2 separate regions of the Homo sapiens genome follow, and region 1 is linked to region 2. The links come from fine-mapping of genetic effects on plasma protein levels. A gene starts in region 2. The other region holds a variant in brackets. All regions are shown on one strand. Distances are between the middles of the regions.

Region 1 (8,287 bases), 20 kb after region 2:
AGGAGGAGCGAGCAAGCTTCCTTGGGCTCTATGTGGAGATCGGTGTGTAACAGGAATCACATTCCATTCTCTGTCCAATTCAGCACCTTGGAGGGAAGCAGAGAGAATATGAGTTCTTCGGCCTGACCCCTGACACAGAGTTCCTTGGCACCATCATGATTTGCGTTCCCACCTGGGCCAAGGAGAGTGCCCCCTACATGTGCCGAGTGAAGACACTGCCAGGTGAGTTCGGCTGAAACCAGAGGGAGGTGGGGCTCCCGAATTCAAGTCTTGACTCTTCTCTTTCCTCCCTGTAACCAAGGTGAGACTTGGCAACACTCTAGAAAACCATGGAAGGGTTATCAGTGTGTTATTGAAGTCAATCTTTGTTTATCCATAAAAGAGTTGGCTGATGAGTTATCAAAGCAAATGTTTGATTCTCACCCTCCAGCCTATGTCTGGATTTCCCCTCTCTGACAGGCCTTATGTGTACCTTGGCAAAGCAAACTCACCTTAATATTAACCCAGGTGAGATATACTGGAGGGAAAATCTGCAGGGGGGAAGCAGAGAAGATAAAAAGATCCCTCAATATCTTCCAAAGTCAAATAATAATAATGGTATCATGATAACTAGCATTTCTGCAGTGCTAACTGGGAACCAGGCACAACCAAGGGCAAGCCTCATGAGCAGTCTATGAGGTAGGTATTATTTTCATCCTCATTTTACAGATGAAGAACCTGAGGTTCAGAGTGGTTAGGTAACTTGCCCATGGCCGGGCACAGTGGCTCACACCTGTAAACCAAACACTTTGGGAGGCCAAGGCAGGAGGATCACTTGAGCCCAGAAGTTTAAGACCAGCCTGGGAAACAGGGCAAAACCCCATCTCCACAAAAAAATCAAAAACTTAGCTAGGTATGGTGGCGTGCATCTGTGGTCCCAGCTACACAGAAGGCTGAGGCAAGAGGATCACTTGAGCCCAGGAGGTTGAAGCTGCAAAGAGCTATGTTTGCACCACTGCACTCCAGCCTGGATGACAGAGTGAGACCTTGTCTCGGAAAAAAAAAAAAAAGTGACTTGCCCAAGGTCACACAGGTGCTGAGGGATGGAATGAGGCCTAATTCTAGAGGCCATGCTCTTACCACAGAGCTACTATAGATACAGTTGGGTTTTTTGTGGGTTTTTATTGTTTTTTGTTTTTGAGACAGAGTCTTACTCTGTCACTCAGGCTGGAGTGCAGTGGCACAATCTCGGCTCACTACAACTTCTGCTTCCCAGTTTCAAGAAATTCTCCCACCTCAGCCTCCCAAGTAGCTGGGATTACAGGTGTGTGCCACCATGCCTGGCTAATTTTTTTTTTTTTTTTTTTGTATTTTTAGTAGAGACGGAGTTTCATCCTGTTGCTCAGGCTGGTCTTGATCTCCTGGCCTCAAGTGATCCACCCACCTCAGCCTCCCAAAATGCTGGGATTACAGGCATGAGCCATCACGCCCAGCCTAGATATAGTTTTGAATCATCTGCTCAGTGAGATGGTCCCTTCCTCTAGCACACTGAAACTTGATTCTCATCACAAGCATCATGATGTTTTTATTAGTGTTTCTTTTCATAGACGGAGGGAAACGTTGTATTGCTCAGAGCTGCAGGTTTAGAGGATGAAGGTGACGGCAGTGGATGTGATAGATTTGGTAAAACAGTCTCCACTTTATCCTCATGTTCAGATTCATGATGTCAGTAAGTGATTTCAGTTCCAACCATGCCAACATTCAGAATAGAGTTGAGTTTGCAAGCTGGACATTGTGTGTGGCATAGTGGAAAGAGAAGTACCGTGTGAGGAATGAGAAGGCACGGTATTAGTCAGATGTCAGCCAACCACGTGCCTGGGGGAGTCACTCAGCCTCTGGGAGCCTGATCCCTCATCTGACAAATAGGGATGCTGATGCCTGGGCTGAGGTGATAATCAGAGGCCAGGCAGCTGCCAGAGCTGGGCCCTAGAAAATGACACTCTGGTCCTCAGGTTTGTTCGGAAACTCATCACTTTTCCAAACAGCCCACAAGAGACTGATTTCTCCACCTGAATCCCAGTGCACCAATTGGCAGGGGAGCTATGCCTCACGGAACAGCCAACACTGGCCACTTGCATGGGGCATGCCCTTCCTGGGGCAAAGGCTGCTAGGGAGCTCAGAATAGAACTTGGCAAGAGGAGAACTAGAAAAAGGAAACTGACGTTCTGGGGCTAAGCTGGGAGTGTTTGTATGATTCATGACCCCCTTCCCTGGACTGTCCTAGATAAATCTCAGCTGCTCCTGGCCCATGGGACCTGGCCCACCAGCTTTTTGACAATGTGAAGACCACTCCACCCTTACCCACAACACCCTTCTGTTGCCTTACTTTGTCTTGCTTATAATGAGATACCATTTTTTCCTAAGACTATAGCTTTTATATAAATCACACTTCCTGGTGGCTACTTCTTGCTGACATATAGAAGGCACCTTATCCTTAAAAATATATTTAAAACAATTCCTACATTTATTAGGTTCTACTATATTGCCAAGCAAATAGTTGTGCCAAATGCTTTACATATATTATTTAATCTTTATTATTACATGTAACATATATTATTTAATCTTTACAACAATCCTGTAAGCTGGGTAGCATCATCCTCGTTTTACAGAGGAGGAACTCTGGCTCAGAGAGGTTAAGCAACTTCCCTGTGACCGCACAGCTGCTTGGGGAACCTGATTGATTCATCTGGTTCTGAAGGCTGGGCTCTACCCACCACTTTGCAACTTTGTTTACAGTGAGCCCCCTGTACTGCACACTTCTTCCTCCTACTTCCATTTCAGAGTGATGCATCCTGCCCTTGACTGTGTATCCTGACGTCTGCATTACCCTCAGAATCCCCTTTACCTACCTCTCCGTAGATAAACAGGGAGGGTCACAGAGCATTGTCCCAGCATCTTGATGACGGAAGAGGCTCTAAGGGCCACCTCACCTCATATCCTACTCTTACAGATGAGGAAACTGAGGCTTCCTTGCAGAGTGGCAGGGAGGATGAGTTTTGAGTTACACATGTAACTCCACTGAGTAGCTGTGTGACCTTGGTCAGGTCACTTAACCTCTCTGGGACTCAGCTTTGTTATCCATAGGAAGGGAGCGTCCCTACCCCTCTGTGATGTGTTTGATGATGTAGTGAGATAACATAGGTAGAGCACCCAGCTCTACATGATCATACAGATCATGGCCTGTAGTAGGAGTTCAACCACTGCTGGCTACTGTTATTATTAAAGGGTAGACCAGAGAGGGTCGTGCAGCAGGAAGGATGCTCAGCATATCTGTGGCAGAGCCAGGCCTCTAACACCCTGTATTCCTTACTCTCAGGCTGGTGGTGTTTTTATATTCCATCCAGCCTCCCTATGGGTGAAATGGCAATGTATCCAATACACACAGTGTGAAATGGAAATATGTCAAGCCAGAGACCATTCCATGTCCCTATTCTGTCCTGGAACAAACAGCAGTGGTTTTCCAGGAATGTTATAGACATTCGGGTGGGGTCTTTTTCCTGGAGTAGGGATGGGGGTAACATGTGACAGGAGACAGGGTTTCACTGAAGTGGGAAGCTGACCCAGAGAGGCCCAAGCTCGTGGGCTAGGGGAGGATCGAGGAGTGGGCTAGAAGTAGAGGTTCCAGCAGTACCCGGAGTTCACAGTGATCGCCGAGGTCATTGGAGCTATTGATAAACTCTCCAAGCTGAGGCTGCACAGGGGCCAGGAAGAGAGGGAGGGTGATTAGC[T/A]GGCCCCTGGACTGCAGGGGTCTTGACTCTCTGAGTCACCTTCCCTCTGTTGCAAACTGTCAGTTTTACCAAAAACTCCAACAACCTCTTCCTCCATAAGTCCTTCACAAGCCCCACTTGGACTGGTGACAGGAAGTGTGTCCTGCCTGGAACTGGCTGCACCCATCCCAAAGATGCTGAGACACAGGGAGAGGCTCAGGCACTAGAGCCCTAGTCATCCCTCTCCCCTCCATTTTAGACAGGACAGTGCCTTCCCAGGCTCCCTTCTTGACCAAGATCTTCCCTGATGCCCAGCCCCTTATCTTGGTAGGGAGGTGGAGAGGACAGGCCTCCCTGTTTTCACTTCTCCCCTCCCTCTGCCTCTACCCTACCAGGGAGGCAGGACCACCCTTAGACTCAGGCAAAAGGGGCCTTTCCCTGCACCCAGCACTTTAGAAGGCCCTTCTCTGGCCCTGTCCTGGCCATTCCCCTCCTTGCAAGATGAAGACTCCATACAACAAAGGGGGCAGATCCATCTGGATCCTGTGACCTCCTTTCTAGATCACATTGTGAGTACCTGGGACCCTGAAACTCTCTGTACATATGGCCCAGAGCCTGTGATCCGTCTAGGCAGTCCTCTTTTGGGGGTACTTCCTCATGAGGGCAGACACTGCTGACATGTAGTGCAGACCCTTGGCCCAAAGGATGACCAACAGGTGGCTATTTGGAGGGGACATGGATGAGCTCGACCATGAGGGCTGGGGCATCTATACACATGTGCGTGAGGGCCCTGGCAGTGTGGGATGGAACTGGGCTGGGCTGGGCTGGGCTGGGGGCCTGCAGTGCGCTGCGGGCTTTCCCTGTACCTCCCCACTTCAGCACAGTACCTAGAGAAGTCCAAGAACTCTGAATTAAAATATGGCATCCCAGGTGGTTGTAAAAAATCTTTTTGTTAAGGTGGAAACCTCGAACATTTTATTTATTTAACAGTGTAAAAATATAATTTGTAAATTCTGACTATTTAGATGTACAGTATATGGACTTCCATTTGTGATCTTGCATTCTGACGGTAGGAGAGGCCTTGCCAGCCCAGCCAGAGAGGGTTTTCAGCATCCACATGTGGGGCCAGACCCAACCGGGCCCAGGCAGAGCCCAGCCTCACGCTTCCTTCTCTGGCCCCTTTGGTTTCCCAGACCGGACATGGACCTACTCCTTCTCCGGAGCCTTCCTGTTCTCCATGGGCTTCCTCGTCGCAGTACTCTGCTACCTGAGCTACAGATATGTCACCAAGCCGCCTGCACCTCCCAACTCCCTGGTGAGCCATCCCCCCAGGGTGGGAGGGAGAGGTCCAGGGGAGGGCCTGGGCTCCGAGGTCCCCAGTTGTCCCCAAAATGCAGGGATCCACAGACAAAGCAGGAGATGGGCCTGCTCTCTCCATTCACGGAGCTCACAGTCCCAGCTAAAGTCAACGGACGTGTAGCCCAGCAGGTCTCAGGACACATTGAAGTGGGGTGGGTGATCAGGAATAGTAGACATGGAATAAAAAACCCACATGGCTTGGAAGTGTCCAGCACCAGGAGGGTAGTGTGGGACTTGAGTGAGCAGCAAGGCAACGAGGGAGGAATGGTGGGCGCCAGGAGAGCCGTGGCACTCATGCCCTGTCTAAATGGGCAGCCGGGCACCACCATGTGGGAATGCAGGCCCAGCACTGCCTGATCTTCATGTTTTTCAAGAGAAGCCAGAGTTTCAGATTATATTGTGGAATCTCCCAATTTTCAAATATTCAGAACTAATTTTTTAAACAGATTTTTTTTTTTTTGAGATGGAGTCTCCCTCTGTCACCCAGGCTGGAGTGCAGTGGCATGATCTCGTCTCAGCACAACCTCCACCTCCCGAGTTCAAGCGATTCTCCTGCCTCATCCTCCCAAGTAGCTGGGATTACAGGCATGCACCACCACCACACCTGGCTAATTTTTGTATTTTTAGTAGAGACGGGTTTTACCATGTTGGCCAGGCTGGTCTCAAACTCCTGACTTCAGGTGATCTACCCACCTCGGCCTCCCAAAGTGCTGGGATTACAAGCGTGAGCCACTGCACCTGGCCATTTTAAACAGAAATTTTTAAATGGCAAAACTAATTGTTAAGTGGAAAGCCCTTTGTTACAGTTCTTTTAGAATTGCTGTAGCAAGTGAAGACCAGAACCACCCCCCACCCAAAAAATAAAACCACCCCCCACCCAAAAAATAAAAATAAAATGGAAAGCCCTACATCAGCCACACAAATCACATCAGCAGCCCCCACCTGACGCCAGTGCCGCCTCTGCTAGAGCAGCAAGGCCACTGCAGAAGCCATGAGCTGAGCCACCTGAGGCACCCGGAGCCTGCTCTTGCCCATCGGAGGGACAGAGGAGCTCTGAGGGAGTTTTGCTCAATGTGCAAGTCCAGATGAAGCATTTTCTGTAAAGCTCTCCCGGTCTCTCCTGGCTCCTTCTTTTCCCACCCTGACCCTGTATTAGGCCCTCAGGGACCCGTGGGCCAAGCAACAATGCGGGCCACCACCTCGAGATCATGCCCCAAGGCAACCCCAAATCCTGGTCATCTACTCCCTGGATTATCCGCCTCCTGGAGAAACCAGAGCCCAGATCTCTCTCCCTGAGATAACCCAGGCTTTAGAACCAAAGAGCTGAGAGACCCTGTCCCTTCAGAGAGGCACTTGCACCTAGAGGAGTCTCTGGGAAGCAGATGGGGATATGGGACAGACGCATCTTGAAAAAGCCCCCAGATGCCTCCCTATGGAGGACCTCACCCACCCACATCACCAGTAGGGAGCTTGGGACTTACCCTAACCACAGGGGGGTGACTGTTGTCGTCCCTGCACAGAACGTCCAGCGAGTCCTGACTTTCCAGCCGCTGCGCTTCATCCAGGAGCACGTCCTGATCCCTGTCTTTGACCTCAGCGGCCCCAGCAGTCTGGCCCAGCCTGTCCAGTACTCCCAGATCAGGGTGTCTGGACCCAGGGAGCCCGCAGGAGCTCCACAGCGGCATAGCCTGTCCGAGATCACCTACTTAGGGCAGCCAGACATCTCCATCCTCCAGCCCTCCAACGTGCCACCTCCCCAGATCCTCTCCCCACTGTCCTATGCCCCAAACGCTGCCCCTGAGGTCGGGCCCCCATCCTATGCACCTCAGGTGACCCCCGAAGCTCAATTCCCATTCTACGCCCCACAGGCCATCTCTAAGGTCCAGCCTTCCTCCTATGCCCCTCAAGCCACTCCGGACAGCTGGCCTCCCTCCTATGGGGTATGCATGGAAGGTTCTGGCAAAGACTCCCCCACTGGGACACTTTCTAGTCCTAAACACCTTAGGCCTAAAGGTCAGCTTCAGAAAGAGCCACCAGCTGGAAGCTGCATGTTAGGTGGCCTTTCTCTGCAGGAGGTGACCTCCTTGGCTATGGAGGAATCCCAAGAAGCAAAATCATTGCACCAGCCCCTGGGGATTTGCACAGACAGAACATCTGACCCAAATGTGCTACACAGTGGGGAGGAAGGGACACCACAGTACCTAAAGGGCCAGCTCCCCCTCCTCTCCTCAGTCCAGATCGAGGGCCACCCCATGTCCCTCCCTTTGCAACCTCCTTCCCGTCCATGTTCCCCCTCGGACCAAGGTCCAAGTCCCTGGGGCCTGCTGGAGTCCCTTGTGTGTCCCAAGGATGAAGCCAAGAGCCCAGCCCCTGAGACCTCAGACCTGGAGCAGCCCACAGAACTGGATTCTCTTTTCAGAGGCCTGGCCCTGACTGTGCAGTGGGAGTCCTGAGGGGAATGGGAAAGGCTTGGTGCTTCCTCCCTGTCCCTACCCAGTGTCACATCCTTGGCTGTCAATCCCATGCCTGCCCACGCCACACACTCTGCGATCTGGCCTCAGACGGGTGCCCTTGAGAGAAGCAGAGGGAGTGGCATGCAGGGCCCCTGCCATGGGTGCGCTCCTCACCGGAGCAAAGCAGCATGATAAGGACTGCAGCGGGGGAGCTCTGGGGAGCAGCTTGTGTAGACAAGCGCGTGCTCGCTGAGCCCTGCAAGGCAGAAATGACAGTGCAAGGAGGAAATGCAGGGAAACTCCCGAGGTCCAGAGCCCCACCTCCTAACACCATGGATTCAAAGTGCTCAGGGAATTTGCCTCTCCTTGCCCCATTCCTGGCCAGTTTCACAATCTAGCTCGACAGAGCATGAGGCCCCTGCCTCTTCTGTCATTGTTCAAAGGTGGGAAGAGAGCCTGGAAAAGAACCAGGCCTGGAAAAGAACCAGAAGGAGGCTGGGCAGAACCAGAACAACCTGCACTTCTGCCAAGGCCAGGGCCAGCAGGACGGCAGGACTCTAGGGAGGGGTGTGGCCTGCAGCTCATTCCCAGCCAGGGCAACTGCCTGACGTTGCACGATTTCAGCTTCATTCCTCTGATAGAACAAAGCGAAATGCAGGTCCACCAGGGAGGGAGACACACAAGCCTTTTCTGCAGGCAGGAGTTTCAGACCCTATCCTGAGAATGGGG
Region 2 (8,290 bases):
ATAGCTTGGGGATGTTCCCTACAGTCTTAAAGCCCTGGCCAGCTTTCTCCGGCACACTCATTCATTCAGCAAATCTTACGAAGTACCTGCTCTGTGCCAGCTCCTACTAGACACTGAGATACCCAGGAGAGCGAGCTCCAGGCCTTGTCCCTGTAGTCAGTGCCATGGGGAATGGGAAAGCACCATGCAATGCATACTAGGAGATGGGAACACAGAGCTGGTGTTCCCAACCCAACCAAGGGAGCAGCTCACACAGGGGAAGCTTCCTGGTGGAAGTGAATTTAAGCAGAGGCCTGAAGAATGAATCGGAGTGAGACAGGAAAGTGGAGGTGGAAAGGGATTCTCAGAGGCAAGACAGTGCATGGGTGCACTGGAGAAATTTGTCAGAAAACAAGTGCTTTTCCTGGAGGTCTGAGAATCAGCAAGGCGAAACTGCTGCTCTGAAGGTCAACGCTGTAAGTCGATGTTGGATACCTGCTCTACATTCAGCCATGTGGAGGGTACAGAGGAATACCAGCGGGCTCTTTGCAATCAGAATGCTTGACGAGCACCATCCAACTTTGGAGCCCAGAGAACGAGGTTATCTGGGGAACCTCTGCCACTGAAGGCAGCTTCGTTGTGAACACCTCCAGCAGCCAAGACCTTTCTACCTCTCAAGGCAGCCACACCATCATAGCGAGAGTGATTTCCTTAAATTGAAAAAATGGCCTCTCTAATATGTCTCCCCCTGACCACCCTAGTTTTCCTTTTAGAGGTAGTTATACAAAAAAGGTCTAGAGCCTTCTCCATGCAATAGCCCCTCAAATATTTGAAGACGGTGCTCATGTTTCACCTCCACTCCAACTCGAATCTCTCCTGTTCATTCTTTTGTTTGTTTGTTTGTTTGGAGGCAGAGTCTTGCTCTGTCACCCAGGCCAGAGTGCAGTGGCTCAGTCTCGGCTCACTGCAACCTCCGCCTCCCAGATTCAAGCAATTCTCCTGCCTCAGCCTCCCGAGTAACTGAGATTATAGGCATTCGCCACCATGCCCAGCCTTTTTTGTTTTGTTTTGTTTTTTTGTTTTTTTAGTAGAGACGGGGTTTTGCCATGTGGCCCAGGCTGGTCTCGAACTCCTGACCTCAGGCAATGCGCCCACCTCGGCCTCCCAAAGTTCTAGGATTACAGGCATGAGCCACCGAGCCTGGCCTGTTTGTTTTTGAGATGGAGTCTCACTCATTCTGTCGCCCAGGCTGGAGTGCAGTGGCACGATCTTGGCTCACTGCAACCTCCGCCGGGAGTCTAGGGACCCTAGACTCCCTGCTTCTCCTGCCTCATTCTTCCAGATTCTTCCTCATTCTTCCTGATTCTCCCTCATTCTTCCTGATTCTCCTGCCTCAGCCTCCCGAGAAGATGGGACTACAGGTGTGCATCATCATGCCTGGCTAATTTTTGTATTTTTAGTAGAGACAAGGTTTCACCATGTTGGCCAGGCTGGTCTCGAACTCTTGGCCTCAAGTGATCAGCCCATCTCAGCCTCCCAAAGTACTGGAATTACAGGCATGAGCCATGGCGCCTGGCCTCCTTTCCATTCTTGAACATGTAACACAGCTGAAGTATCATAGTGGACAATGCCAAAATGCAGGCCAGACCACATATTCTGGAAGGACTTTGTTTTTAAGTTCGTTTGTTTTTTGAGACAAGGTGTCACTCTGTTGCCCAGGCTGAGTGCTGTGGTGCAGTCATGGCTCACCGCAGCCTTGATCTCCTGGGCTCAAGCAATTCCCTGCCTCAGGCTCCCAAGTAGCTGGGACTACAGGCATGTGCCACCACACCTGGCTAATTTTTTATTATTTATAGAGACAGTGTCTCACTATGTTGCCCAGGCTGGCTTTAAACTCCTGGACTCAAGCGATACTCCCTCCTTGGCCTTCCAAAATGCCGGGATTACAGGCATGAGCCACGGTGCCTGGCCTCTGGAAGGACTTTCAAAGTGAGATGTTATGGGCTGGAGTTATCAAGAAGGGCCATATCGCAGAAGAAAACTGTCTTGGTGAGATTCGAGGAAAAGGGAATTGGCTAAGGGAGTGGAAATGGCATTCCAGGAGGAGGATAGAGCCCCAACAAAGGCTTGTCTTTAATGCCGATTTGTTATGTTTAGTAACCTTGCTTTCCCTTAATATAAATTAGTGTATTTCCTATATTAACTTTAGGAAATGCAGATAAGCAAAGGGAAGAAAAGAAAAATCACCTACAATTCCACTACCACCCAGAGATAACGCCCCTAGTGTTTTCATCTATATCCATGAAGACACGCAGTTTGCTCTGCGTGTGCAGGTGTGCGTTTTAGCCAGGGTGGTACTGTACATAGGTTATGTTATGCCTCTTTTCACTTGAAAAAATATGATGAGTCTTTACCAGGTCACGAAACATTTTTCTCCAGCATTATTTTGGAAGCTGCATTTGTCTTGCTTTGGGTGGACATACCATTATTCTTTTAACCAAACCTCTATTGTCAGACATGGAGGTTGTTTTCATTTTTTTCTCCTTTTTTTTTTTTTTTTTTTTTTTTTTGAGACGGAGTCTCGCTCTGTCGCCCAGGCAGGAGTGCAATGGTGCGGTCTCGGTTCACTGCAACTTCCACATCCTGGGCTCAAGCAATTCTCCTGCTTCAGCCTCCCGAGCAGCTGGGATTACAGGTGCCCGCCACCATGTCCGGCTAATTTTTGTATTTTTAGTAGAGACAGGGTTTCGCCATGCTGCCCAGGCTGGTCTCGAACTCCTGATCTCAGGTGATCTGCCCACCTTGGCCTCCCAAAGTGCGAGATTACAGGCATGAGCCACCACGCCCCACCTATTTTTTTCTTAAACTGTTAGAAATGAAGTCTGGGTGTTCCCACATTCCTTAGCAATCCAGGTGTCTTCCTTCCCGTTAATTCCTACATAACCACAGGCCCTCGAAACTACAGGATGCCCTTTTCCTCCATCAAGTTCCTTCTTCCAGTGCTTCTGAGAGGCCCCAAGGAACACTTTCGTGTTCCACAGACCTGTTGGGGCTGCGTCTTGTCCTCTCGGCCAGCCACTTGGGACCAAAGCCTGCTCTTCTCCCTAAGCGTCCCTTGTAACCTGTTTTTCTCGCTGTAGCTTCCCCACACTGCCTTGTCATCAAAGTCATCAAAAACCCTCTATCCATCATGGTTCATTCAGTAGCACAGAAACCTCTCCAGTCTTTCAGACCAAGGGACTTTAATGTAAAGGAGCTCGTCACCCAGAGGATGAAGGAGCTGGGACACTAATCAGGACAGACAGTTCAGAGATTTCCCCAAAGCAGGAAGCTGTGCCATCCCACCAACTGAAAGGAAAGATGAGGGGAGAAGGTGTTGCCAGAGCCAGGAGCTGGCCTCCAAACAGGAACAAGAAAGACATAAGGGGTTGCCTGGCTGATGGACTGTCCAGAGGGAGCCAGAACTGCAGAGGGATATGGCCATTGCTGGGGAAGCCACTCAAACAGAAAACGAGGGGAGAAATGCTCTGATCTCTGCCTCCCCAGTCTTCCCCCAGGGGCTAAACCTATCAGAAAGCAGTTGATAAAGGAGTCTAGAAAATGTAGTTTCCTGCAGTTTCAGGAAATGACTGGCATGGGCCCTACCTTAATTCCTCCAAAGCACAGCTTAGATTTGGCTGTTTTGTCAAACAAACTTTAGCAATCAGGGCTGATAACAATTACAATTCAGGAAAGAAAAACTTAAACACCGATCTCAGCATATCACAGCCCATTACACCCAACCCGTTGGCAGGATCCCTGCTAAAATTTCGCTTGCCTTTGTGTGCTTGGGGCCAGGCAAACTCTCCCCAGGGGCAGGACCCTCCAATCGTGTCCACCCTGACCAGAGTCCAGGCCCCAGGGCCCTTCTACCTTCTCCAGGCCCTGCAGGAAGGAGAAAACCATTTCCTAAACACCTGTCCCTTCATTCACACGAAGCTCATGTGCAGATCCTGCCCTACGTGGCAAAATGATGGGAGAGCAGCCTGAATCTTCATCGTCCCGAACCAAAGCCCCATTCATGAAGTTCAGCCCCATCTCTAGCACAGCAGAAAGAATCACTGAAGTTTGAGTTCCATTTTTTTTCTAAACTTTTGCAGATCCTAGACCCAAAGGCTCAAGGTAAGAGCGGCTGGGCTTCCTCACCCCCAACGGCCTCTCTAGGGGAGAGCTGTTCCCAAGCCCACCCCAAGCGTGGGGACCTGCCTTGATATGGAGGATCAAGGAGGAGCATCGGGTGCCCTCAATCTCCTCCTGCCAGAAAAGCAAAGGAGTCACAGCTTTTCCTTTGCTGCAAGAAACATTCTGGGACCTTTTTTTTCCCCCTCTGTTGTCCAGTTATTTTCATCAGGGTAAATCCCCTAGGAATAGAATTATTAAAGCAAAAGATATGTATGTGGTGTAGGCTTTTGATCCACAGTGCCAAATTGCTTTTTGATAAGGCTGCATATCGTGGATTATTCTTGCCTTTTCTGCCCCTCAGCTCCTTGATAAACCACTTGGGATGAATCAGCCACCGGACCAGATAAACAAGCCAGCCTGTTACTATTGCTGTTTTCTGCAAGTCGGAAGGGAACTCCCTTAGATCCCGCCCAGAACCTGGAATTCCAGAGCACACAGGGCCAGGACACCTTTGTACCCCTGCTCCCCACCGGCACAGGTCCCACCCACCCCCTTCTCCCCGCCCCATGCCCGGGTGGAGCCAGCTGCCAGGGCGCCAAGACTCCCAGCCCTCTCTCTGTGCACGGCAGAGTAGAGGCCAAGGGAGGGCTCTGTGCCAGCCCCGATGAGGACGCTGCTGACCATCTTGACTGTGGGATCCCTGGCTGGTGAGTGCCCATCTACCCTGTGGTCAGACCTCCCTTATCCCAGGGGCCAACGATCAGGGTCATCTCCCCAGCACCCTCCCCAGCCCGAGCATAGCCAGTTTCAGTTTCTCCCCTGCTAGGGCTGAGCAGGGTGCCGGGTGTTCACGGAGAAGCAAATGCCCAGCTTAGTTTGCTGGGGGCATGAGAGGGTGCCTCAGACCCTGGGTTCTTCCAGGGACCCAAAGGACCCTCGGGTCTTGAGGGATATAGCCAGCTGTCTGAACTGGGGGTGCTGGATCGCTGCACCTCAGTGAATGGAGAATTGGCCTGGAGGAGGCAGACATCCTTCGGTCCCTCAAACGGTGTCGGCACAGTTTGTACCATCCTTCCTCTGCCTCTCACTTGGCACTGGCCTGACAGGGGAGGAGGAGGAAGGACCGGGGGAAACGAAGCTTGAGTTCACTATTGCCTCCCTCCATGCCCCTGCAGGGCCTCTTTGGCCCCTTTTGTTATCATAGATCTGAAAGAGCATTTTCTCCTAGAGTGGCCAGGTCTGCTACATTAATAGGTCTTAAGACACAGGACTCATTTGGAAACAGGTCTTAAGGGCATAGTGTTCAAAGCCAATAAAGTGAGCGGAGTGGGGGGCTCATCATTATGGAGAACGTTACATGAGACCCTAGACTCTCTCTCTGCTCTCCTGGTGCATTGCATGAAATTCAGGGAACTTCCTTAGGAAGTCAAAGCATAGTCCTGATTGAGGATGGCGAGCAGGTATGGCCTCGGCCAGGCCCTCCTTGCTCAAGTGCAGGACGAGGCCCACGAAAAGGCAGAGCTTCCCACCTTCTCTGCCACTGTCCCGCCAGGGCTGCCTGCGTCTCCAGGGCTTCCAGCTCTGTGGGACCCCCTCCAGTCTGCTTCCCAGCATCAAGCTGGGCGTTCCAGGAAGATGTGAGGCACCCCCTTGAGGCACCAAGACACGTCCCTTTAGACCCTCAGCCATACTGGTTAGAAATCCTAGAGGCTCCCAGCCCTTTGAGATGGGGGACCCCAAGAAATAGCCCTTAGGAGATTGTCAAGGGTCAGCTGCCTCGCGCTGCACACACCGGGCCCTCACCCCCCCAATCTTAGGCTGACTCCAGAGCATGTGGAATTGTTTCTTGTTTGTGTATTTTTCCTTAGCTTCCCAGCTGGTTGACAGAACATTGTTTTTCCACATGAATGTGAAAAAACAAGTTGCCTTTTATAAATCCGCCAGGCTGCCAGGCTCCACACAACACATGTCTCCCCAGATTTCACAATATAGACTTTCACCCGGGAAGTGCCGAAGCAACACAGGCTGAGGAATGGATGATAGATTTGAGGAGGAAAAGGAGCGAGGAGGGTGGGAGAAGAGGGGGAGATCTTGTTAGACCCTGACATCCCTAAAAGACAGGAGTGGGCCTAGGTTCACTTACCCCACTTCAGGAAGCTAACTGCAGTTCCCTCCTGAAAAGTGGTGCCAACCTCCACGTAGCCCAGGGTCCTTTGCCTTGGCAACATGCCCCCACCTCAGCCACCAGCCTCCTTGCAACCCAGATGGGCCCTCTATTTCCCACCCAGAACACTGACCTCAACCAGCAACCGTTCCCGCTGCAGACTCTACCCCAAGCCTTGATGGAGCCTGGCTTCTCAAAGCCCACCCTCACCCTTCTGCCCTGACCCACCACCCAACCAGAAGCCACTGTTCAGGTCTGACCTTGACTGGACTCCTTTCCTCAACTTTAGACTCAGCCCTGAATCCAGGACCCCTCCCTCCAGAACTGACCCCAATTCCACCCAGCCTCACATCCAAACAAGATGTCAGCTACATCCTAAGGCTCCACGGCACAGCCGTCACCTTGCGTAGAGGCAGTAGACCCCTCCCCGCGCCATCCCTAAGGCCCCATTCTGGGGACTCCAGGAAGCCTGAAGACATTTTGCAGCTGCTGGGCCAGAACCCAAATTCAGAGAGGAGGGCAGCCTTCGAGGTTGGCCAGAGGATGTGCAGCGGGGTCGGACCATTCTTCCGTCCCCATCGGTCCTCGCCAAGCCTGAGGACCCCTCTTGTGTGTAGAGTTGGAGTAGGGGAATCAATAACTGTCTGCTCCCTCACACCTTGGGCCCACTGGCAGTCGTAGACGTGTCTGGGGAAGGAGAGGCACAGACATATTCAAGACACACACCCAGGCCGCAAGGCCTTGACCCAGCTGGGGTTGCTTAACATTTTCCCACCTGTTTATTTCCCACGCCAGCCGGCCAGGGCCTCCGAGCTCCGAGCCAGCTGCCAGCTTGGGCCGCCATTTTCCCGCAGGCTCTTGCTCTCCACAGCCCAAGCCTGGGGGCCTGAGGGAAGGGTTTTATAAGTTAAGGACTCTTTGTTTACAGTGCAGATTGCTTTAGAGGCTGCAGCCCCTCCCCAGCCCCTTCCTTGAGGCTCAGGCCCTCACTGCCCTTCCCTTAACAGAAGCAGAAGTGGGCTGGACAAAGACCTAGCCTGGAAGAGAGGGCTGTGGACTCTTCAATGGCCAGCTTCTCTTCTCCTCTCTCTTCTCCTCCTCCCTAAATTCATCCCTTTATCAGGTGCTCAGGTCCCTGAAGCCCCCCACCCTCATATAAAAGGGTGAACAAGATAGCCCCCTCCCTACAGAGCGAATGTCTTCCCTTCCCAGGTCTCCTCCCTTCAGACTCAACACATGTACATAGGGGCCTGTTAGACACTAAACACATTCACAGACGCCAACCCGCTCTATCCGCCCCACAACCAGTCTAGCACTGGGATGAATATTGTAGGTTCTTCACATGCTAACTGTGATGCTGGGCGGCAGCTCTCTCTGAGCCTCAGCTCATTCATCAAATGGGGATAGTGATAGTGGGCACGTTGTCGTGAGGATTTAATGAAGGGAGGGACTTGCCTGAAAGAGGCTGTGCACTTCACAAATGCCAGTGGCTGCTGTTGTCATTGTTGTTTGTCTTTCGGTAAATCAAACTATATCCATTTTAGAGATGAGGCAATTGAAGTTCTCGTTGCTTAAACAACTTTCCCAAGGCCACCCTGCCCACGTGTGGGCTCAGTCAAGAGCGCCTCCTCCACCATTGCTTCATCTGATCAACTTGGGGCAAGTCACTTCTTACACACTTTAGTTACATATCTCTAAAATAAGGGTGAGGACACCAACTTCAGGTTGTGTTAAAAAGTGAATGAGAGACAATACCAAGCATCAATGGCGATGTGGAGAAACTGAACCCCTCAAACAATGCTGGTGGGAATTTAAGATGGTGCAGCCATAACATCCTGGACAATATATGAGACCCCATCACTACAAAAAATTTAAAAATAAATTAGACGGATGTGGTGGTGCATGTCTGTAGTCCCAGCTACACAGGAGGCTGAGGTGCGAGGATTGCTTAAGCCCAGGAAGTCGAGGCTGCAGTGAGCCATGATC

Which allele goes with the higher level. Alleles are on the strand shown, and positions count from the first base shown. The strength of an association depends on the size of the effect and on how common the allele is.
For the plasma level of the protein whose gene starts at base 4,747 in region 2, A is the low allele of the variant in region 1 and T is the other (strong association).

The links. PIP is the chance, under the fine-mapping model, that this variant and not a neighbour inherited with it causes the effect. Protein levels are from antibody-based Olink assays in UK Biobank. Linkage for the fine-mapping came from a reference panel and not from the study's own genotypes, which makes the PIPs less certain.
Region 1: its variant is fine-mapped to the plasma level of the IL22RA1 protein (UK Biobank, PIP above 0.99).

What each region holds. Positions count from the first base shown.
Region 1 is chr1:24,120,076-24,128,362 of GRCh38, reverse strand. It overlaps IL22RA1 (interleukin 22 receptor subunit alpha 1), which reads left to right. Exons shown (of 7, transcript NM_021258.4): 5 at 84-222; 6 at 4,940-5,061; 7 at 6,626-8,287. The coding sequence ends at 7,558. Among named protein-coding and RNA genes, the nearest start is that of MYOM3, 12 kb to the right of the region's middle. RefSeq lists a silencer at 7,630-7,924. The variant T/A (reference allele first, on the strand shown) is at 3,768.
Region 2 is chr1:24,139,597-24,147,886 of GRCh38, reverse strand. IL22RA1 (interleukin 22 receptor subunit alpha 1) reads left to right here and starts at 4,747. Exons shown (of 7, transcript NM_021258.4): 1 at 4,747-4,847. The coding sequence starts at 4,805.